3 separate regions of the Homo sapiens genome follow, and regions 2 and 3 are each linked to region 1. Evidence: fine-mapped expression QTL. A gene starts in region 1. Each other region holds a variant in brackets. All regions are shown on one strand. Distances are between the middles of the regions. Region 1 holds the start of EFHC1 (EF-hand domain containing 1). Region 2 overlaps EFHC1 (EF-hand domain containing 1). Region 3 overlaps EFHC1 (EF-hand domain containing 1).

Region 1 (8,189 bases):
GAATTATAGCCAACTTTTCTTTAACTGCATTTGGAAAATAGTCTGGTGAAGTCTACAGGGAACTACTTTACTCCCTGTAATCAGCTTCCTGACTAAAGAAAGCCTCTTTTTAGCCTGAGTTCAGCTGTCCATGACTAAGGGTTAAGGCATCTGAACAATTTTCTCCTCAGAGCCCTTTGGAAATTCTGTGGTTTACTGTTTTAACTTTTTTGCAAGCAGTTGGCTCTCAGACCCTAATTCAAGGGGTACCCTAAAATTCCAGATGATACCTTTTTGTCAAAGGCCACATGCGCAGGAATAAAATCCGCAGGTGGGGCTTGTTTAGGTTGGCCATAAGTTAAGACTGGTGCCTTACTGGCCAACTCATCCAGCTCAGCCTGGGACAGCTGGTTGAACTGGAGCCGGTCTCCGCCTATCCCAACTGTTGGACGTCGAACAATTGCATAGCCGTTCCTGTAGCTCAGCGTCTGACTTCTGTGGAAGGCTGTTTTCTGAAGAAGAAAAGAATGTGTCATTAATAACATTAGACAAATATTTGTTAGGTAAAAAAAAAACTAACTTTTAAAAATATAACTTGAATCTTTGCTTATAAGCATCACAAAACTTACATCAAGAAGCTTACCAACATTAAGGCTGGGCATGGTGGCTCGTGCCTATAATCCCAGAACTCTGGGAGGCTGAAGAGGGAGAATCACTTCAGCCCCAGAGTTCGAGACCAGCCTGGGCAACAAGATGCTGTCTCTACAAAAACTAAAAAAAAAAAAAAAAAAAAAAAAAAATTAGCTGGGTGTGGTGGCTTGTGCCTATTATAGTCGGCTGAGGTGGAAGGATCACTTGAGCCTGGGAGGTCCAAGCTGCAATAAGCTATGATTGAACCACTGCACTCCAGCCTGGGCAACAGTGAGACTCTGTCTCAAAAAAACAAAACAAAACAAAAGCTTACCTACATTAAAAGATTCTGTATTTTAAGTTAAAACACTTGAACAAGAACAAGGAGCGAAGTAGCCACCTAAGCTTAAAGTAAAATTTAAAGCTGTGCTCTGTAATGCCCAATTTAACTACCAATTCACCTTGCATGAGAGATTAAAAGAGTATCTCATCTATACTCTTAAGTTTTTCACTAGTCTTCTCATGTTTTTCATCTGATATCTGGGGCCGTAAAAACTGTAGAACCTAGAAGATACGGTTCTGTGAATTTTATTTTTACATGGAATGAATTTATTTTTACCTGTCCCTCTTGTCACAATGACAGTGATACATTCTTACAACTCTTTGGAAAGCAACTGGATGGTATATATTTAAAGTCTTGAACTCAATAATTCTACCCCGACCATTTATTTACGAATATGATTCAGAATTATGAGAAAGAACTATATGCCTGAAGCTGCCCATTACAATGGTAAATGTTGAAGACAATCTAAAAGACAGTCATATGAAGACATGAGTAAATGATCGAAAACTCACTCAATGGATTATGGTGCTGTCATTAAAATATTGATTTTAGAGATCACGTGGCAACCTGGTGAAAATATTTATGATTTAATAAGCCTGAAAAAGCAACATATAAAATTATATGTGTACTGCAATTATAAGCATGGAAATATGTGCATGAAGAGACTGGTTTGGTCCTCTGTATTATACATTTCTAAATTATGTTGATTTTTTACAATGAACACATTTTTATTTAAAAGATTAAATAAAAAAGAGTAGAAAGGCAAATTAGAGGTTATGTTAATGGTTTCCTTTTTCTGTTGTGAGGATACTTTCACAATTACTTATCTATAATATTCAAATATATACATAGATACAATTTAAGATTAATCATAAAAAATATTTTTATGAAAAAAACTTTCTACATCCTAATTGCTTTAGAGCCCAGCCTACCATCTTTCAAGATCTGTACTAACATGAAAGGTACAACAGAATAAACTTCTTTTGCTAAAAGGGTTATAAACTGTATATAACCCATAAAAACAAATGTATGACATTTGTTTTTAAAGGTCATGTATTCAGAGTCACAAGTCAGTTGACAGGGACTGCTCCAGGTATATAGTAAACATGACATAGAACAAAATGCGCTGAGTTGACATCCTCATTGGGTAATTTATGGAACTTCAAGCTCTTCTTCCACCACCAAAGACAGAAGCAACATCAGTGACTTCAGTTTATTTCTTTGTTTTAGACAAATGTCTCTACCATCATTCAGCCATAACTCACAGACACCCCAGGCAAGGCAACCTCGGCCCTTTCCACCCCTCTTGTCCATTATGGTTCACCTTCTGTGTGTCTTTTTTTAAAATCGTTTTCCCACTCCCCTTTAAAAATTTTTTAACTTCTTATCTGCATGTCTTTAGAATTACATTAATACATATTCAGTCCTTCACTGCTGAAGATATACTGACGATGCTTTTCAAATTTCAAATAGGGCAAATTGGTTGACACTTGGCCAGTGTATTTAAAATCTGAAATATGTCCAATGCACAGTTCTTCTTACTTGTAATACAGCAATATGTTTTTAGAGCTTTGCACTTCCATCCACACCTCTGTAATTCCCTGTATCAACTCAGCCCTGTCTATACTCACCAACACCAAAAGCTTAAGCTCATCCTGTATAGGGCAGGCAAGTGCCTACAACATTTTCTAAATTACATAAAACTGAAAAGTCCACTGAAACTAAAAATCTATGATGTTGTGTCTTAATGCAGGGATAATTACAGAGATTCAGAATACAAATTCTCTCACCAAACTTTCGATTTCATTCTAAATTGATTCTTCCAAAGAAAATAAATTGACAAAATATTTTAACTTTGTGAAGCTGGAGAGGAAGGCAAGAGTTTAAAGTATTAAACTATATAAACATAAACTACTGTTAGCTCATCTATGATGATCAGTCTACTGAATCTCATTATTGATTTTTCAGCACATACATTTCAGTAGCCCTGTCAGAATTAAAACAAACCAAATAATTTTAAGAGCTAAACTGTGGCAAGAGTTTAAAAAAAAAAAAGAATCCAAGCTGCTGCTACTTTTTAAAAAATTTTGTCTAGAAAATGCAAATAAAAACACAAGGTTGGGGAAGGAGCAAAACAAAATCTAAACAGGAATCTTTTTACAAAAACGTTAGAATAAAAAGAACAGGGCCGGGGAAGAATAAACAGCAACTAATCAATTCTTGAGGGAACTGGAAAGGAATATCTCTTACAAAGCAGGGAAAGATGCTTTGGGAGGAAGGTGAGCAAGTTTTGGGGAAAACCCGCAACGGAGAAAGAAAGGAATGGGGAGAGGATGGGACTAAATTGTGGAAAATGTAGAAGATGGAGAAAAAAGAATGGGGTTGGATGCAAGCATAAAGAAGAAAGGAAAAAGACCTGGCGGAAAGAAGAGGAGCGGAATCGATATACATACAAAACAGGAAATGGAGCTGGGAGTGGGAGATACTACCGGGTACAGGATTCAGAAGAGGAAGAGGTGGGGCGGGAATGACGGACCTGTGGGAATGAGGTTGAAGGTGCATAGTGGCGGGGGGTTTTAAGGGCGGCGATGGACGGAGACAGGTTATGATGTGAGAGAACGAGCTAGGGAGAGGGCCCAGAGATAGGTTGGGAGTAGGGTGGGGGAAACAGTGATCTAAAGGGACAAGAGGCAGGGGCTTGGAGGAGCAGGGCCGTAAGAAAGAACGCGGCTAACGGGATGAGAATGAAGGCGCCAACACACTGCCAAGATGGAGTGGGAAAAAACTAGAGAGGGATGAGGCGGAGGGCAAAGGATCGGAGAGAGGGGATGAGGATGGCTAGGGAAGAACGGCAGAAGTTCGGCCCAGAATAAAGAACAGGGTCAGGACAGAAGACGTGTTTGGAGAGAAGACAGACTTGAGTGGAGGGGAATGGAGGTGCACTGAGCGGGGAAACCTCCTGGGCTGCTGGAAGGTGGGGACAGGTGGGAGTCTGGCAGATAACTGCTCACCGTAGAGTCCTTAAAGGACGTGCCCGGAAGAAAGGGCAAGCCATGCACGGGATTGGACACCATTGCAGCCGGTACCACCGCCGCCACCTAGGTCCTGCTTCGTCCTCTCCGGTTGCCCAGGCGACAAGCAGTGTTCGCGGGCACCTCCAGGATCCATGGTAACGCTAAACATCCGGAACTCCCACGAGCGGAAGGCGGGGCCAGGAGGCGCAGGCATCACAGGAGGTTTGCGCGTGCGCCATCCGCAGGACTCCGCGTTCTCGCGGTAAGTGGGCCGCGGCCTTGGAGCGCGGCTAGTGGGCGTGGTTGTGTCGGCCCCTCCTCTTCCGCTTCGCCCCGCCCCGCTCCCGGAGGATGAGACGTGGGAGCTGTTGGGTGGCGCGGGGAAAGGCGGGTGTAGCGAGGCGGTAGTTCTCGCTGTGAGATCCGGGGTCCGAGCAGGCCCTTAGATGAGTTGCAGAGAGGGACGTTCCTTCTCTCCTTCCACCTAGTCCTGGCGGACCTCACTGCGCCCCGCCAACGCTGTGAGCTCAGGCACTCTTTTCTCCCCCCTCTGCCCCATTTCACACAGAAGTGTAAATGGTCGGTCCAGTTGGCAGTGCTACTAAACTAGACCCATGCTTCTTGTAGGCAGGGGCCGAGGATTACCCATGATTGTGTTTCTGTTGCTCAGGGATGGTCAATGAACTAATGCAATCATCTCATCCTTAATTCTCCCACTGCCACATTGTATTTTTCCCCTTTTAACTCTTTTTTAAAATCAATCTTTCTCTTTCTTTCTTTCCTTTCTTTCTTTCCTTTCTTTTCTTTTTCCTTCCTTCCTTCCCTCCTTCCCTCCGTCCCTCCTTCCCTCCTTGCTTCCTTCCTTCCTTCCCTACTTCCCTCCTTCCGTAGAGATAGTGTCCCACTATGTTGCCCAAGCTGGTCTCGAATTCCTGGGGTCAAGCGATCCGCCCACCTCGCCTCCCAAAGTGCTGGGATTACAGGCATGAGCCACCGCGCCCAGCTCTCTTTATTCTACCATCAATCCCTTCGGTTAAACACCTTTGTTTTTGTAGGGAAAGCCTTGAATATGTGCTGCAGGGCAGGGTGCACTCTGATAGGTACTTGATTTTTGTTGACTGAAGAGCTGCAGGTTGAAGGGTGGTCACCTCAATCCCTCGTTTGTACCTGCAGCTGCAATGAAAAAGATCAGAACCACTAGGAGGAACACAGCTCCTTCAAAGAGAAAGACTAAGTCTTGGGAAAGAAGCAGATAAGTGAGGTGAAATATTGTCAGCATCATAGGTATAGCCTTTGATGCTTTTTACAAAACTTGCTTAAATTATTTTTTCTTAAAAGAAACATAATCCTATTCCTGAAACATTTTTTTTGGGGGGGGGGGGAGAAAGCTATCCATCATTGCTGAGGAGCTTAAAAATAAAAAGTAATCAAAACCCACGTGCCGAGAGATTTGGATTCATTAGGTCTGACATGGAGGCCAGGAATCTGATTTTTGTAACAGGCGTTTGTGACAAGCCAGTTTAGGAACATGATAGAGTAATAAGCCAGACACAGAAGGCATATCTCAGTGTCACAGGTAGTTTACTGCCAATACAGACAGCAGCTTTACTTTTATTGCTGCTTGTCAGAGCAAATCCCCCTGTTGGGTTTCACTAATTTGTGTGACGCTCAGGAGGCCCAGGACATGAATGCATTAAGTGGCACCTGAGGCAGTTATTGATGCCTGCTTACCATACCCTGCCCAGAGAGTTTCCTTTCTAACTCTTCTCCCCTTACTACATCTGTTTCCTGTTCTTGTCCTTTTTTAAACCTCTTTTTCTTTTTCTGTAAGTACATTACCTTAATGCAGCAGTTTAATACATTTTTTAAAAACTTCAATGAAGTTTTTTTGCCTTTGGTGCTTTTTACAAAACTTGCTTATTTTTTAAAAAAATAAATGTAATCATATTCCTCAAACATTGGTTAGCATTGTGGAAGTTACTGAAAACTTTTAAAGTACCTGTCCGTTGTATTATACCTTAGACACCAACTGAGGATGGATGCCAGTCACTGGAGGAATATGTCAAGATGGCAAGTTTGCTGGGTGCGGTGGCTCACGCCTGTAATCCCAGCACTTTGGGAGGCCGAGGCGGGTGGATCGCCTGAGGTCAGAGTTTGAGACCAGCCTGGACAACATAGTGAAACCCCACCTCTACTAAAAATACAAAATTAGCTGGGCATGGGGGCGCATGCCTGTAATCCCAGCTACTTGGGAGGCTGAGGCACGAGAATCGCTTGAACCCGGGAGGTAGAGGTTGCAGTGAGCCGAGATCGCGCCATTGCACTCCAGCCTGGGCAACAAGAGCAAAACTCCGTCTCAAAAAAAGGAAAAAAAAAAAAAAAGATGGCAAGTTTAACCTTTCAAAGATAAGGCACCTCTCCCACTTCTCTCCACCTCATTGACGCTGATTACCCAGAATCACTGGTTACTGTAATTTTTGCTGACTCTTCATGATAACCTTAAACTGTTAGAAGTTCCATGATCCCTCCCTACCCACTCTCTTATTAAAAGTAAATTTCATGGCATTAGGACACACTTTGAAGAGCTCTTCTTGACTAAGTGCATGGTTGCACTTGGATCTATATTCCTGGGTTGGGTAGGGAAGGAGCGTGTGGAGCTGGAAAGGCTGAGTCATGCCTAAGCCTATTGTCCATTATCGCATCTGTTTCTATTTGAGGAGTGCCCTCTGCTCATGCCTTTCTTTCCAGAAAAGCACGCCAGTTAAATGGCTAAGGGGTGTGTTTTAACTACTTTCGGACCCCAGAAATGCATGAAGACAACTTCTGTTGGTCTATGGCCTCCTAAAAATGCTATCATCTCTGAGGAGGGGAAGTCAGACGTACTGCATTAGTGTTAAAAGGCACAGGGACAAGTCTGTAAAGAAGTGGGGCGGGAGGAAAGGCAGGGCTTCAGAAAGGTACCTGGATCCTCAGAAGGTCTGCTGTGATTAAGAGTTTGTATCCCAGTCGGGTGCAGTGGCTCATGCCCGTAACCCCAGCACTTTGGGAGGCCAAGGTGGGCAAATCACTTGAGGCCAAGATTTTGAGACCAGCCTGGCGAAACCCCATCTCTACTAAAAATACAAAAATTAGCTGGACGTGGTGGCACATGCCTGTAGTCCCAGCTACTCAGGAGGCTGAGGCAGGAGAATCGCTTGAACCGGGGAGGCAGAGGTTGCAGTGAACAGAGATCATGCCACTGCACTCCAGTCTACATGACCACTTAGCATGCATTGCACTTCAGTTTGTACCCACCATTTCCCACTTAGTGGAATATATAAAAGAGGGCAGGAAACTGACCATTCCTGGCAGCTAAAGTAGGAAATGCCATGATTGAAAGGCCATTGCATAAAGCCTGACTCAGAAGACCACAGAAATATTGCATGATTTTAGCAGGTGTTCCAAAACTTGGGGAATGGAAAAAAATTGAAAGGTCAGACTGCCAGGAGCCAAGCCTGAAAGAGGGCCTTGTGGGCTGGGTAATGTCTTCCAGGCAATCCTGATGGGACAGGCCATAAGCAGTCAGCTAAAATAAACCTCTCCTCTTTCAGCATTTTGCCCAGAGCTGACTTTACCCAGAATTTGTTTTCAAAACTGTGACATTCTCATTCTATAATACCTAAATTCACAGGACAAAAAATACCAAAGGGCTGTGTGTGCATGTGTCCTGGATTACTTCTGCAGTGATTTGGTGTTCTGCTTCCCTCTGCTGGGTAAAAATGGTACAGCAAAATTTCTGGAAAAGAAAACAACCAATTACATACCTGCAGGTTTTGCAGGTACTTGGGGGTGTGGTGAGCACGTGAATATGGCCAGGGGGTGTCCCTCAGTCAGAGTGCTCTCTAGCATTCCTTTCCATCACTCCATGGCCTCTGAAATATTTTATCTAAAAAGAGGGCCCAGTCATCCACTTCGATCTTTGCAAAGTATGGGAAAAGGAGAAACATCCAGTGATTAGATTTAGGATCCACAGGAGATCTTCATTTGACACAAAAATTACATCATTTGGGTCTAGACTATTTTAGTCTTGATGTGGGCTCCTGCCTGGGGTTTGGAAAAACCTGTATTTCTGCTGCTTTTTCCTCCCTTAAGTCAAACCTATTCAATAGCTTTAGCTGATTCCGTTGGAATTCTCTTTCCTTGTCAAAGCTGATGGAACATACTTCACAGGATATAAGCGTCAT
Region 2 (8,178 bases), 35 kb before region 1:
AGTTTGAGCTATTGATCCTGTCACCCAAATAGTGAACACAGTACCTGATAGGTAGTTCTTCAACCCTTGTCCCTCTCCCTTACTTCTTCCTTTTGGAGTCCCCAGTGTCTATTGTTCCTGTCTTTGTGTCCATGTGTATACCCAATGCTCTGTTTCTGTGTTAATTCACTTAGTATAATGGCCTCTACCTGCATCCACGTTGCTGCAAAGAATATGATTTTATTTTTTATGGCCATATAGTATTCCATGGTGTATATGTACCATTAACACATTTTCTTTATCCAATCCACCAGTGATGGGCACCTGGGTTGATTCCATGTCTTTGCTATTGTGAACAGTGCTGCAATAAACATGAATACAAGTATCTTTTGGATACAACAATTTATTTTCTTTTGGGTATATACCCAATAATGGGATTGGTGTAGTTCTACTTTTGGAGAAATCTCCAAACTGTTTTCCTCAGGGGCTGAACTAGTTCACATTCCCACCAACAGTGATAAGCATTCCCTTTTCTCTGCAAGCTTGCCAACATCTGTTATTTTTTGACTTAATAATAGCCATTCTGACTGGTATGATTGCATCCCTCTGATGATTAGTGATGTTGGGCATTTTTAAAATGTTTGTTGTCCATTTGTATGTTTTCTTTTGAGAAGTGTCTGTTCATGTCCTTTGCCTACTTTTCAATGGGGTTATTTGTTATTTTTCTTGTTGATTTAAGTTCCTTATAGATTCTGGATATTAGACATTTGTCAAATGCATTGTTTCAAATATTTTCTCCCATTCTGTAGGCTGTTTCCTCTGTTGATAGCTTCTTTTGCAATGCACAAGCTCTTTAGTTTAATTAGGTCCCAATTGTCAATTTTTGTTTTCATTACATTTGCTTTTTTTTTCCCCCTGCTCTGAGACAGGGTCTCACTCTGTCGCCCAGGTCTATGATCCATTTGGGGTTAACTTTTATGTATGGTGAGGTAAGGGTTGAAGTTTATTTATTTATTTACTTTTGCATAGGCTATTGAATTGTTCCAGCACCTTTTGTTAAAAAGACAATCATTTCTCCACCAAATTGCTTTTTTACCTTTGTCAAAAATCAAATGACCTCATATGTGTGCATCTATTTCTGGACAATTTGTTCTATTTCATTGATCTGTATGTTGATCTCATCAGATTGTAAAGTCTTTGAGATATGGGGCTTATAGTAGTTTCAGATCTCCATTGCCTAGCATGGTGTTTCCTTCATCTATATGGATGTTCGATTAATATTATTCGAATGACTGAGTGAGCCAACAAAGATGCACAGAAAGTGAGGAAATACATTCAACTTTCTGGAACACTAAAGGTCTAAGGGGTGTTCAAGATTCATCTAACAGGCAAGGGCAAGATCAAACTATGAAAGCCAGTCTGAAGGATAACTAACATATTTAGACTTTCAGAACCTGGTTCCTTGGGTTCAAGAGCTGAGTAGAAAGCTTTTGTTAAGTCAAAAGATGTCCTGTTTTGATATTACCTGCCACCTATTGGTAATATGCAATTGCCCTTGACGAAGAAATAACTTTCTGAATTTCTGATATTTTAACTCCATCCATTATAAATATATAATTTTGATTTATCTTAGCTACTTAAAAGGAGGCCCTGGTTGAGAGGACTTCTGAAAGTTACTCCCATAATTTCCTATTACTGTCTAATACAAACTCTCTGCCTAGCCACCATCTCTTGGGCGCCCCCAAACATGCCATACTTGTTCCTAATTCCCAACTTTTGCTCTTGTTCTTCTTTCTAGTGAGCTCTTTGTTCTCTGCCATTCTAAATCTGAGTCTAATCCCAGCTCTTCCACAAAGACTTCTTTAGTTTTTCAGGCCCACACCTTTGTCCTTCTGACCTCGGTCTGCATGACTTAACTAATTACATAATCAGATAATCTGGTATACTCATGTTATTACTTAACAGCTTTGTGTATTTTATATGCCTTGTCTTCTTAATGACACTAGAAATGACTGAAAGATAGGATTCTAGGAATGGGAGTTACATTTTGTCCTCCATAGCATTTAGCATGTGAAATGGTTCCCATAGCAGATTATTTACCTCTTGTTTAATTGAATTTAATAAAAATCACCCATTGGATAAATGCCTTTGAGAGTCAATTAGACATCATTCTTTTAACACTACCCTTCTAGTTAAAGGAATTATGTAGCTGATGGGAACATAGCCTTTTCTGTACCTCATGACTGATACCTTTTTTCTTTTTTTGAGATGGAGTCTTGCTCTGTTGCCCAGGCTGGAGTGAAGTGGCGCAATCTCCGCTCACTGCAGCCTCTGTCTCCTGGCTTCAAGCAATTCTCCTGCCTCAGCCTCCTAAGTAGCTGGGACTACAGGCACCTGCCACCATGCCCAGGTAATTTTTGTATTTTTTAGTAGAGAGGGGGTTTCACCATGTTGGCCAGACTGGTCTCGAACTCCTGACTTCAGGTGATCCTCCCACCTTGGCCTCCCAAAGTGACGGGATTATAGGCTTCGGCCACAGCGACCAGCCTGTTTCCTACTTTTTAAAAGAACCCTATATATGCCACCAGGCTGCCTCTCCATGCAACTTTGATAAAAAATTTTTAATTGGGAAATTATAGAAGAGGATAATTATATATTAAGTTTTCAATATAGGTCACATTGATAAAGCAGAGACAAACCTGGAATCTGTCATTTAAAGGGATTTAGTTTCAGTGAGACTTTTCATGCCACCCTGAATATATTCCTATCCATTTTCTTTATCTATTGTAAATCTAATGTTTGTTAGCTCCGAACTGCATGGATTTCAGGCTTGTTTAAGCATTCTGAAAGGCCAAAATTACTATATTAGTCCCATTGTCATTGAACTCTAAGACGGTTCTGTAGAGAACTGATTATAAGAATATGTATAGTAGGTAGAAGCCAAACTATGTTGAACTAGGGCACAGATCCAGTTGTTTCTATTTGAGAATACAAGCTGAATTAGCAGTATTTTCATTTTTTTAAAAAAATATATAACATAAACTTTCCTAATTCTAAAATGATGACAATTTTCACTCCCTTTTATCCTTTTCCCCAATCTCATTCTCCTCTCCTCACATGCAATCATTCTAATGCAGCTATGTGACTGAATGTGTCCTACGTGTACTATGTTTTGCATGTGTTATAGCATTATATATCTAATTTCATGTATTTTTTCCTACACAGCACTATGTTTTTAAGATCCATCCACTTGCTTTCTGTGTACATCTTGTTTACTG[C/T]TTCTAACTACTGTATATTAATCAAAATGTACCTTCACTACATTTTTGCTTATCCATTCTCTCAATGATGGAAACCTCCAACTCCTTGCCCACAAATAATACTGCATTTTTCATAAAAAAGCACTGTGCAAGTGAAGCAATATGTACAGACACGTTGAATTTAGCCTCAGACTACACATTTATTTATAACCTCTAATGTAGACAAACTTCTTGCTCAATACCTGAAATTTCTTTTTCTTTTTTTTTTTGAGATGGAGTCTCACTCTGTCACCCAGGCTGGAGTGCAGTGGCACGATCTTGGCTCGCCACAACCTCCACCTCCCGGGTTCAAACAATTCTCCTGCCTCAGCCTCCTGAGTAGCTGGGACTACAGGTGCACGCCACCACGCCCAGCTAATTTTTTGTATTTTTAGTAGAGATGGGGTTTCACCATGTTAGCTAGAATGGTCTCGATCTCCTGACTTCATGATCCACCTGCCTTGGCCTCCCAAAGTGCTGGGATTACAGGTGTGAGCCACCGTGCCCAGCCCCAATACCTGAAATTTCTTATATCCTAATTCCCAAAAAATATAGTAAAAAGAAAAAAAAATCAGTGAACACATTTACAGAATCCTGTCAGCCACCCAAACATAAGAGCTATCAGTCATTACATGTGACCAAGATGACATTATTCTAAGAGAAATGTAAAAACTACTAAGACAATAACTAAAGCAAGCCTACTCATCCCAGGAAACAGTGAACAGCAGGTATTTGCTGCCATTTTGTTGCACTGCCACTCTCAAATATGGTAGGTAACTTTTTTTCTTTTTCTGGAGATAGGATCTCACTGTTGCCCAGGCTGGAGTGCAGCACCACAATCACAGCTCACCGCAGCCTCGACCTCCCAGGCTCAGATGATCCTCCCACCTCAGCCTCCCAAGTAGCTGGGAATACAGGTGTGCGGCACCAAGCATGGCTAATTTTTGTATTTTTTGTAGAGAGGAGGTTTCATCACGTTGCCCAGGCTGGTCTCAAACTCTTGGGCTCAAGCAATCCACCCGCCTCAGTCTCCCAAAGTGCTGGGATTACAGGAGTGAGCCATCATGCCCAGCCCATGCTAGGTAATTTTAAACCAGTAAAGAATGAGCTGGGTTTGACACAATGGACCTCACCTCTATGAGTCACAGACATGCCTTTTCCAATCTCAAGTTAAACCACATAGAAACTTCCTGTTTAGGAAGTAGTTGAAGTGAGAAGCAAAGTCAGGAAAGCATATAAAGAAAAGCTAAGCTTTCATTCATATCCTTGAATGAAAACAAGCCTGTTTGAAAAATGCATTAAAAATCTAATATTAAATTGTTTCAGTTCAGAAACCTTGCTCTGCTGCACTTTAAATAAATCTCCCACTGTTGTTTTGGTTTTGTTTCCTTGACCTGGGTACCAGACTGTCTTGGGGGCACGCCTGGACCGAGGGGCAAGTAAAGGAGGAAAGCTGTGGGAAGCCATTTTCTGAGCATCTAAGCAAAAATAGCTAGAGGCTTCCAAGTATAAACGAATTTTGCATACTGATTAAGTAACTCCTTTAAGAACCTAAAAACATCCCAAGTAACAGAGAATAAACTGAATCAAACATACTTGCATTTTCCACCAAAACTTTGGGCACACGCTGGCGGTTCATTAGGAGTGGGAAAGGATCTCTCCCATCATTCCGTTCGTGGACCTCTCGAATTTCCACCGTATCATCCATAAGATAGTAATGAATGATGTAGGTCCGACATTCACCATACATGCTGTCTGTATCATCCCAGATTGCATAGAATCGAAGGACCTTTGAAGAATCCAAAGTAGTGACTCAAGAATCCTAAAAGTAGGGAGTTCAACTTGGCTACTTTGGCAATTATGTATCAACGATGGAAAGACTAGCTGGAAAGACTATGAAGTAATTTCAGATGGGGTAAATTGAAAAAAAAAGAAATATTCATCAAACATACTAAAACATCTGAAATTATGTACTATATGTCAGCAGCTGGAAAGAATTAAATAATAGGATTATAAGTTTGTGCCAAAAAAGAAGAGCTCACTTTGATCCAAAATATTAGTCAGTGAAAGAGAAGCTAAATTAAAAGAGCAATGAAGTTCTTTACATAGTGGTATATATATATTAATAAAGGTACATGTGAATATGGTTTATATATAATTAGTGTAGAAAAAATTTTTATTTATTAACCAGTCTTTTTTTGGTCCCATCAACACATATCTTCTAGCAATAATATAAACACAATCTTTTTTTTTTTTTTTTTGGCTAGGCTTCTTCAAATCGTGGGAATAAACACAATCTTTAAATACAAAATAATAACAGATATATGACTGATATGAACAAAATCCTTAAAAGACCATGCTAGTGCTAGTTTACATTTTCTGAACTAAAAGGGGTTAAATGTCTAAAGAAAAGGAGCAGCAAAGAAGCACTGAGGGTGATCTCTTCCTTTTCTTTCTCCCTTTAGTACAGAAAGGGAAGGATTTAAATCTGCTTATACACATCAGCTCACAAGGGAGAGGATTAGGAAGGTTGGAACAGAGTTGGAAAATGCTCAGAACATTCTGGACTCCAATATTAATATAACATTTAACAAGGAAGCATCTGTAGTGGGGCTTCTGTGAAATTAAACATTTTAACATTACAACCTACATGTATGCATATTTGTGAAATTTCCTAATAATCGATTTATGGTTTCACAAAGGAGTCTATGAAATTAGCTCATTTTAAGGGAAAGAAATTGTCAATTGGAAACGTAAGGTGGGAAGCAGATGTAGCTCAGGAATTGCTTTGAGATTTAAATGTTTGGTGAGGTTCACAAAACAACTCCGCAACTCCACGATCTTCTTTGGATCTCCATATGAAATGTAGGCATTCCTGTACCTGTAACCCTTGATGAAAGCAGAAAGACAGTACTGTGTCCAAACAGTTCAATTATAGCTGTAATGTTTCAAAATAGTTACCAATACAGCTACCCAAACCTTTTGCCAATAAATGTAGGTCACATTTGGAAATAAGTAAGCCTATTGTGGTTCCTATGTCACTTACCTGTTTGTCAAAGGTGAGAAATTGCTTGAGTTGATCAAAGTCTGATGGGGTGACATACTTACGAAGAGGCTGTTTTCGGAGTTCAGTGTAAGGATCAAGAGCCATCTTCTCTGGTGGATTTAACTCAATTCCTTGGCTTTCTAAAAATACCTAAATAATTGAAAGTTAACAATGATCATCTTTCTTGGAGCTTTTCAGAGTAAGTTATAAACTGATTATATAAAAATAAGTGTATGGGCCAGGCACTGTGGCTCAGGCCTACAATCTCAGCACTTTGGGAGGCTGAGGTAGGAGGACTCCTGAAACGCAGGAGTTCACAATCAGCCTGAGCAACATAGTGAGACCCTGTTTCTACAAAAACATTTAAAAGTTAGACTGGTTTGATGGCATTTGCCTGCAGTCCAGGCTACTCAGGAGGCTGAAGTGAGTAGACTGCTTGAGCTCAGGAGGTCAAGGCTGCAGTGAGCCATGATCATGACACTGCACTCCAGCCTGCGTCACAGCAAGACCCCGCCTCAAATAAAGAAAAAAAGAAAGAAAAAGTGTAATAATGATTTCTATGCCATTGCTTAAGTTAAACATTAGTTTGCTGCTTGAGCGCATGTAAGCTGTATTAAGTCTCCAACTGAGCCAACTCCATAATGCAGGTAATAATTGAGAGTTACCTGAAGTATTTTATATTGTTATATTGCTAGGTATTTGCTAAGCTAGTTGGGAGGCACAATGGCAAAATAACTGTTTTCAAATAATTTAAATCAATCAAATTTAGTTAGGTGCCTGTAACAGAGTAAGTCTTAGGATTGCTTACTTTCATATATCTGGAACCTAACCATGGTTTCAAACAATATGTAATTCCTATTAGGTCTGGAGGCAAGATGCACAATGGCCAAGTTAGGCTGAAATCATATTCCCAATTTTCTAATTCACTTAAAACAAATACTGTATATGATTAAGTCCCTTCCCCTCACCAAAAAAGAAAAAAAAGAAAGCATACCCACTGGTTATATTAGACCAGAAAACGTGTTAGCAAAATAGGAAAGACAAACCAAGTGCTCAAATTTCACCAGACATTCCTGAAAGGGACAGTGAGAAAGCAAACAACTTGGAAAACATATTTCAGGATATTGTCCACAAAAACCTCCTCAACCTCGCTAGAGAGGCCAACAATCAAATTAAGGAAATACAAAGAATCCCTGCAAGATTCTATGCAAGGAGATCATCCCCAAGCCACATAATCATCAGATTTTCCAAGGTCAAAATGAAAGAAAGAATGTTAAAAGCAGCTACAGAGAAAGGGCAGGTCACGTACAAAGGGAACCCCATCAGGCTAACACTGGACTTCTCAGCTGAAACCCTATAAGCCAGAAGAGATTGGGGGCCTATATTCAACATTCTTAAAGAAGAAAAATCTTCAACCAAGAATTTCATATCTAGCCAAACTAAGCTTCTTAGCAAAGGAGAAATAAGATCCTTTTCTGATAAGCAAATGCTGACAGAGTTCATTACCACCAGACCTGCCTTACAAGAGATCTTAAAAGGAGCACTAAATATGGAAAGAAAAGGCCATTACCAGCCAATACAAAACACACAAGTACACAGACCAGTGACACTATAAAGCAACCACACAAACAAACCAGCATAATAACCAGCTAACAACACAATGACAGGATCAAATCTACACATATCAACACTAATCTTAATTATAAATGGGCTAAAGGCCCCATTTAAAAGGCACAGAGGCCAGGCATGGTGGCTCATGCCTGTAATCCCAGTACTTTGGGAGGCAGAGGTGGGTGGATCACTTGAGGTCAGGAGTTTAGGACCAGCCTGGCCAACATGGTGAAACCCAGTCTCTGC
Region 3 (8,189 bases), 72 kb before region 1:
GCTTGCTACAGGGTAATGCTCAGCTCCCTTCCACCACCTGAACCTGACACTCCAGATGCATGCCAGCTATGACTGTAGCATAAGGTAATTAGTGACATCTAATGGCTGCACTGCCATTCAGGATTTTAGTAGAAAAAGTGATTTGCTCTGACGTTTGTGGCTCCTATACTTGCTGCTTTGTATAAACAGGTGAGCAGCGAGTGTTTGGACACCACAGAAATGGCCTGCTGGCTTTGGTCTTTCATGAAATCTCTTTTATACCTTGTGTTGGTGCTGTCAGATCTCAGCTTCTCAGTCTTAAGTAAACTTAAAAGGAGATGCAAGGCAAGAAGTGGACAGCAAACTTAAGGAGTGTATGTGGACAGTGCCAACTTTATTGAAGACAGTTCCCTCTGAGACTACAGGCCTAGCTACTCAGAAGGCTGAGGCAGGAGGATTGCATGAGCCCAGGAGTTTGAGGCTGCAGTGAGCTATGGTCACACCACCGCATTCCAGTCTGGCAACAGAGTAAGACCCTGTCTCTAAAAAACAAACACAAAAACAAAACAAAACAGCCAAAAGCAGGCTAGAGGATGCTAAATGAGACTTTCCTAAATCTCCATTTTGGCTGAGACCCAAAGCTGAGGACAAAAATTGGCAAATATATCCATATGTTGCAGATTTGCTGCCGATCCATGAATGATTTGTTAAGGAGTAGCCCAAAGCTCCTCTACCACAGGAGGCAAGAGTGATGGAGAAAATATCAGAAAGTGCAAGCTTCTTGAAAGGGGCTGGAGTGCCTTGGGTCTGCAAGCTAAGTGAGGGTATACTTTAAAAGACTCAGGGTTTGACATGTGTCTGTCCCCTGGAGTTTGGAGAGCATAAGATTTGGGGTACCTGGTTCTCCCCTGAAACAGTCTAAAGGAAAGGGATTGAGCTGCCTAATTACACAGCCAAGAGAGCCATCTGGGTGAGAACATGGCGAGAGTGCACACCCTGGAAGGTGTGTCAGCCTGAAAGGGCCTCCTGGGAAGATCAGAAGGAGCCTTGGAGACCATACCATTAGAGCCGGGGTGATCAGGTACAGACTGGGTCCCGTCCATCTGAGAGTGGTGCACTGGGCAGTTTCCGGTTGGAAAGAGTTCTAAGAACTCACCAAAACGGGGCTCTGAGCAAAGGACATGGAATCAACCTAGGTGCCAATCAATGGTGGATTAGATTTTTTAAATGAAGTATATCTACACCATGGAATACTACGCAGCCATAAAAAATGAAATCATGTATTCTGCAGCAACATGGATGCAGCTGGAGGCCATTATCCTAAAGTGAATTGATGCAGGAATAGGAAACCAAATATTGCATGTTCTTACTTCTAAGTGGGAGCTAAACATTGAATACACATAGACATAATGATGGGAACAATAGACACTGGGGACTACCAGAGTGGGAAGGGAAGGAGGGGGTATGTGTGGAAAAACTACTTACTGGGCACTATGCTCACTACCTGGGTGCAATATACTCATGTAACAAACCTGCACATGTACCCCCTGAATCCAAAAAGAGAGAAAAGGTGCTCTGGGAGAAAGAGTCAGCCTTTCGGCACATGTCACTCAGACCTGGCCCCACATTACGACATTACTAGCCACAGAAATAAGACTTTGCCCTTTTTCTCTGGTTTCTACCCGCTTAACCTTTCCCAGAGCCTACATGGGCTAGAAACAGCAGCATGGCTGAATAGGAACAAAGGGAGCAGAAGACAGAAAGAAGGGAGTAAGAAGAAACCACTATCATCACCCCAGTATACACACACTCTTTACCACAGGCTTCTAAGCCTGGGGGAAGGACTGAGCTGGGCCAAGTAGGATAGAGCTTGGTAATTTTTAAGCTGAAAAAACTTCTAAAATACAGATAGTCCCCAACTTTCAATGGTCCAACTTATTTGCCTACTTTACAATGGGCTTATCAGGGTTATTAAATGTGTTTTCAACTTGTGATATTTTTTACTTACGTGAGTTTATTGAGACATAGCCCCATAAGTAGAGGAGCATCTGTACTTGAAAGAGATACTGTTTTAAATAGTTATGAGCGACTGAGGGTAAAACAAAACAAAACATGGGTTATTCCCAAGATAATAACCTGGAACAGAAAAGGAATCAACATAATACATTCACAGCCCTTTCAATAAGCTGGTTACAAGTGGCTGAGCTCGTTAGGGAAGGAAACACCAAGGGAAGTTCCCTAGAAGTTCTGAGAGGGCAAAGCAGTCTGAATTCTGTGTAACTCTATCCTCATTCATACCACATTTTGGGTGGCTTCGGGGAATTTGAGATAGCATGTTTAAAGATGAACTTAGTGGCTGACTTCAACCAAAGAGAAGCCCTGTTTGTAAAAAGCCAGTCAGAGCTCACCAGAGAATAGTAACTGCAACTAGTCTTTCCTTCCTCTCTCAAGGCCAGGCTCTCTAAAAGCAGCATTTTTCTAACCTTTTTTTTTTTGAGATGGAGTCTTGCTCTGTCACCCAGGCTGGATGGAGTGCAGTGGCGTGGTCTTGGCTCACTGCAACCTCTGCCTCCAGGGTTCAAGTGATTCTCCCATTTAAGCCTCCCGAGTGGCTGGGACTACAGGCACACGCCACCACACCTGGCTAATTTTTCTATTTTTAGTAGAGATGTGTGCACATATATGTATATACATAATATATATACACATATACATACTATATGTATACATATAAGCGTGTGTGTGTATGAATGTGTACATATAAAATATATATATATATATATATGTAGAGAGAGAGAAAGAGAGAGTTATAAGAAATTGCTCACACAATTATGAAGGCTTACAAGTCCCAAGATCTGCAGGGTAAATTGGCAAGCTGGAGACCCAGGAGAGCTAAAGGTATAATTCCAGTCTGAATCCAAAGGCCTATGACTTAGGAGAGCTGATGGTTTAGGTCCAGTCTGAAGGTCAGCAGGCTCCAGACCAACAGCTGATGTTTCCATTTGTGTCTGAAGGCAAGAAAAGGCTGATGTTCCAATTTGAAGCCAGTCAGGCAGGAGGAATTCTCTTACCTGGGGAAAGGTCAGCCTTTTTATTCTACTCATGTCTTCAAATGATTGGAGGAGGCCCACCCACATTAGGGAGGACTATCTGTTTTACTTAGTCTTCTGATTCAAATGTTTATCTCATCGAAAAATACCTTCAGAGAAACCCCCAGAATAATGAAATATCTGAGGCTGGGCACAGTGGCTCATGCCTATAATCCCAGCACTTTTGGAGGCTGAGGTGGGAGAATTTCTGGAGCTCATGAGTTTGAGACAAGTTCAGGCAACCTAGCAAGACCTTGTCTCTACAAAATAATTTTAAAAATTAGCTGGGCATGGTGGCTTGAGCCTGTTGTCCCAGCTACTGGGGAGGTTGAAGTGGGAGGATCACTTGAGCCCAGGAGTCTGAGGCTTCATAGAACTAGGATAGTGCCACCACACTCCAGCCTGTATGACAGAGTGAGATCCCATCTCTAAAAAAATTTATTTTTTTAAAAAGAAAGAAAGGAAATATTTGGGCCCCCTGTGGCCAAGTCAATTTGACACACAAAATTAGACATTGCTATACCCCTATCACCCTAAATAAGGCACCAATCTTAGATCCTATTAGATCCAATTTAGTTTCGACTTCAGTAGGAGTGAAAGAAGAACCAAAACAGAAATAAAACTTCAGGAACCCTGTAAATGCCTCTATGAAGAGTGTAAGGTGTATTTCAAAGCATAGTTCCAGTATCAAAAATTGTCTTGCATTTTCTCATCAGCAGGTCAGTTTGAGAAAGCACGAACAAAGTTATAGTAGTTAATTTTGCCTTCTCCATGAGAGCACATCCTGA[T/G]TAACTGCAGAGAGAGCAAAGAGAATAGGTGAGACAGATCTGCAGGGCTTCCGTCAGCTCAACTGCAGAGTGCGCTTATGCATAATGATCCCGAGCCTTTGTAAATCAGTTCAGAATTTTTGTATCCTCAAGTTGATTCTGAAATGATCCTGTGAACCTGGCAGGTAGGACAGACATTATCCCCATCTTACACTTAATGAAACCAAAGCTGGATGGAGTAAATGACCTTCCCTGTTGAAGGCCGAAAGAATGAGCGTCATGATCAACTCAGTATACCACTGGAGGCTCTATGAGTAAACAGTAAACTGTTTCTCATGAAAGCAGGATGTTGGCAAACTGACAAACTGCGTCTGCTGCCCAGAAGGAACGCTGAAGGCAGTCACGACCCAGGCACAAGTGTTTCTTGTGATTAGACACATCTGAAGCCTGTTAGCAATAATGTGAACCTGTGATCAATTAATCCCTGCTCTTTCTACCCAATAAATATGAAGGGCTGTAGCAGCTCGGGCGGTTGCCTTTGCTCACTAGAAGCAGGGAGCTCTCTTCTTTCCCTTCCTTTAAAATAGTTACTTTTGTTTTAAGTTTTCATTTCTGCTTTCATCTTCCTTCGTTAACTCTCGTAATGACGGTCTCAAGTAGTAACAGTAGTAATTGTCGTAGAGATGTCTCAAGTAACCGTGGCAGTCTGCCACATTTCCCAAGATTTCAGAACTAACATCCATATTTATAAAAGCACTTTTAGTTGTTTTTATATTCAAATAAAAGACTGTCCACTCAGCTCATGAGGAGTAAGACTTTTTAAATAGCAGGCTCTTGCTACCACAGCCTAACGGAAGGGTCTGGTTATGCCACTGCTCAACCTGTGTCCCTTAAAACTCGACTGTGACTGGTAACAGACTGATTTTCTGTGGTTATTTTTATAAGATGTGCAAATCTGTCCCACCCCCACTTCCCTGCTCCACTTGCCAATGACTGCCATCCCTCTCTCCCATGTCAGTTCCCACATCAGACAGTATGAAGAATTTGAAAATCAAAAGTTGGGCATGCTGTCAACCTAAAATTTGGGGAGCTAAATGTGTGTTTGGTCCACATGAACAAATACTCTTCTATCTGCCCTCCTACTCACTCCCTGCTAATGTTTCTGTCTATGAAAAATCCTCATCTCCAACCTAGTCACTAGCCCTAAACCAAACCCTTTCCTAAATGACTCTTAAATTCTGAACACCTGTTTTGGCTAAAAGATCTTTAAAAAGGCCTCAGAATCTCAATATTTTTAATCAGTAAGAATGTCTCAATGATCATAAGCCACAGTCCTTGGCATTTCTCAGGGGGACTTTGTTCTGACTTCCAAGGGAACCCTGGCTAAAGGGTTTATAATGAAGAAAAGGCATGAAAGTCCCCCTTCAACTCACTTATGAAAATTCAAGGAAGAAAACTTCCATGCCCTTCCTCCATCAGCTGCTGGCCATGCTACCACTACTGACAGATGCCACAGCCCTCCTGCAGTGGTCATGCCTTCTTTCATGCTAACCCTACTGATGGGCCAGTGTAGGTATCAGCTGTGAAGGGTATCAAAGGCTGCCAACCAGTCTGCTCTATCAACTTATCTTTGAGTCTCCCCTTGGTAGCCACCCCTCCTGGATCGTCTCTGTTGCCCTTCTTCAGTCCTGACATGTTGGTCTACTAACCACTCTGTGTTGTCCAGCCCCAGGCCCACTTAAAGAGATGCCCTGCAACAGCAATTAGAAAAGAATACCAATGCTAGAATCAACGGGCAATACCTAATCAGGACAGAATAGTAGATCTGATCTGAACATCCTAAATCTGGCCCAGTTGTAGTGAAATACACACACAATTGCCTTTAGAAAAGAATGATCAGTGCCTAGCCTCTGCAATGAACTCAGAAGAGTAATTCATACTGACCTCCTTAACCAAGGAGTCATCCACTGGGACGTTAAGCGATTCACAGATTTTAAAGAACATGTCTCTGTCCACATATCCTGAAGCTTCCTTGTCATAAATTTGAAATGCCTCACGAATGTTGTCTTTGCATGAGTGATCTTTCAGTTGCTTCTGAATTGTGTCTATTAATGCTTCCAATTCCTGCACGCCTGGATCCTTTTCAGTTTGCTTGCTGTAGAGAAAGGAAGGAAATGACTGCACATGGTATTTATTCTTGATCAGTCTCATCTCGGTGACCAAAGTTCTTACTTGATGAAATCAGGGAAGCTTCTAATCACAGCTTTGAGACTGAGCTGACCAATAACTGAACACTTGCCCACAGGCCGATAGCTGACCTCCACATCAGGAAGGCCCGACTGGGGGCAGTTTTTGAATTTCCTCCCTTCTTGCTCAGCCTCCTTTCCTGCCATCTGTTAATCACTGCATCACAAGGAGGCAAATCTAATACCACCACCATGCCAAATTTGGTATCTGTGAGAATCACATCATTGTCTCTTACTACTGTTGCAGATTAATGTTTCCTCATCTACAACTAAATGCCTGAGTGATATATATAAAGAGAGATGATAGATATAAATATATAGCTATAGATCTGTAGCCAAGAATCAACCTTTTATAGTTTTAATATTATTCCCTCTCCAATTCACACTGAATTTTGTGAAAGGTTATCTATGGAAGCTAAGAGATTGCTCTGTGAGGTAGAGTGAGAAGTTTGGGCTTAGCATTTACTGAAATTAAGAGAGAATAGTAACACAGGGTGTTGGGAAGAGAGAGGTCTAACCCTTCAAAAAACAACCACAATAAGTAGAGGCTCAATTTTTATTTCCTCTGAACATGAAGGTACAGTTATAAAATTAAAAATTTTAGAGCTGAAAGATTCCCTCATATTTCATCTTCATAAATCCTTTTAGAACAAAATGGGCCACATAAAGTCAGTAAGCATTCTTCCCTCTTTCAGTGATGAGAAAACACATTTGAAGACCCGAGTGACTGATCCCAGATCCCATGTCAGCGGCAAAACTAGCACTCACATCCCACTCCAGTTCCAACATATTCTCTCAATTATGCCCAGTCACCTCTCACTGAATTCCTCTCCTTCCGTAACTTGAAAACTATCAATCTACCATTGCTTTTCTGTATTTACTTTTCTTGCGTATAATATTTTTAAAGTTCACTGTTGCAAATAGCCTCTGTTTAACTTATTTCCCTCTTTTACCTGCTGGCAAGTCTTGCTGGGGAAGGTATAAAGTGGAATAACCTTTCAGGAAAAATTTGGAAACATGAAGCAAAAGTCCAGCAAATAATCTCAAATAATTTATCCTAAGGAAATAATCATGGGTTGTATGCAAAGATACATCTATAAGATTGTTTTGAGATAGTCTAAATGTCCAAAAATAGGGAATTAAATAATTTACACTACAATAAAGCAACAGAATAATACTGCAGCCATTGACAATGCTGCAGAAAGAGTATAAAGATATTTTTAGTGAGAAACTCAAGACATAAAAGTATGTATAGAGTGTTACCTTGTGTTATAAAAGTTGTGGGGGAATAAGAGTATATACTTAAAGTTGCTTATATTATTTAAAGAAACTCTGAAAAGATATTCAAAAAAATAAATGAAAGAGGTAGTTACCTATGGGGAGTGGAGGGTAAGAAGTGGGTACATGAAAGATGGGGTAGGAACAAAGCTTTTCCTTGGTCCCTTCATATCTGTGTCTTCAAATATTTCATTTCACAAGGGTTCATGATAGACTATCAAGTGAAAAAAGCAAAATAGTATTACAGAATTTTCCACTTTATATGCATCTTTAAAAACAAAATATTAGAAGCAGTTATCTCTGAGTTATAAGATTTTCAAAAATTTTTGTTTATTTCCATTTCTATTACCTAGATTTTTATTCCCTAAATTTTCAAATTCTGGTCATGTGTTACTTTTGTAGTAAGCCAAGAACAATAAAAATTGTTGTAATAATCCCCAATATCTAAATGCTCTCTGGCATTATTAATTATAGAAGCAGAATGTGTTTATCTGATGAATGTAATTCAAATCATATATACTAAATTATGAATGACCACCAGGGAGCTATTTTAGTGGCAGAAAGCAGTCAAACCTCAATCTTGCATGTGTTTCCAAGAACTAGAGCCATGAAACATATAAAGTTAAAATGTGATCATCCAATCATTTGGGGAAAGAGACAATAACTCTCCCTTTCCCAAAGAAGCCAGATTCCCATTCCCCTTTATACAGCAGGAAAAATACCCATGGCATCTGCTGCCTTTGAGCAAGATGGAGTAAATTCACAGATAGATGGCAATAGGTGGTACTGTTTAAGGAAGAGCTAGTTAAAGTTACAGCCCCTACTTTATT

Evidence for each region. PIP is the estimated chance that this variant, and not a neighbour inherited with it, causes the effect. A credible set is the group of variants that fine-mapping cannot tell apart.
Region 2: its variant is the best candidate, but not a certain one, in a credible set for the expression of EFHC1 in whole blood (INTERVAL, PIP 0.69).
Region 3: its variant is the best candidate, but not a certain one, in a credible set for the expression of EFHC1 in sun-exposed skin (GTEx, PIP 0.88).

The regions. Positions count from the first base shown.
Region 1 is chr6:52,416,248-52,424,436 of GRCh38, reverse strand. EFHC1 (EF-hand domain containing 1) reads right to left here and starts at 4,095. Exons shown (of 11, transcript NM_018100.4): 1 at 3,964-4,095; 2 at 270-491. The coding sequence starts at 4,026. It overlaps LOC124901331 (a long non-coding RNA gene), which reads left to right and starts at 3,456. Exons shown (of 2, transcript XR_007059611.1): 1 at 3,456-4,228; 2 at 5,989-6,537. RefSeq lists an enhancer at 3,535-4,126 and a silencer at 7,552-7,846.
Region 2 is chr6:52,450,981-52,459,158 of GRCh38, reverse strand. EFHC1 (EF-hand domain containing 1) reads right to left here. Exons shown (of 11, transcript NM_018100.4): 4 at 6,322-6,471; 5 at 4,872-5,064. Among named protein-coding and RNA genes, the nearest start is that of EFHC1, 35 kb to the right of the region's middle. The variant C/T (reference allele first, on the strand shown) is at 3,258.
Region 3 is chr6:52,487,941-52,496,129 of GRCh38, reverse strand. EFHC1 (EF-hand domain containing 1) reads right to left here. Exons shown (of 11, transcript NM_018100.4): 10 at 5,780-5,990; 11 at 1-3,860. The coding sequence ends at 3,789. Among named protein-coding and RNA genes, the nearest start is that of EFHC1, 72 kb to the right of the region's middle. The variant T/G (reference allele first, on the strand shown) is at 3,857.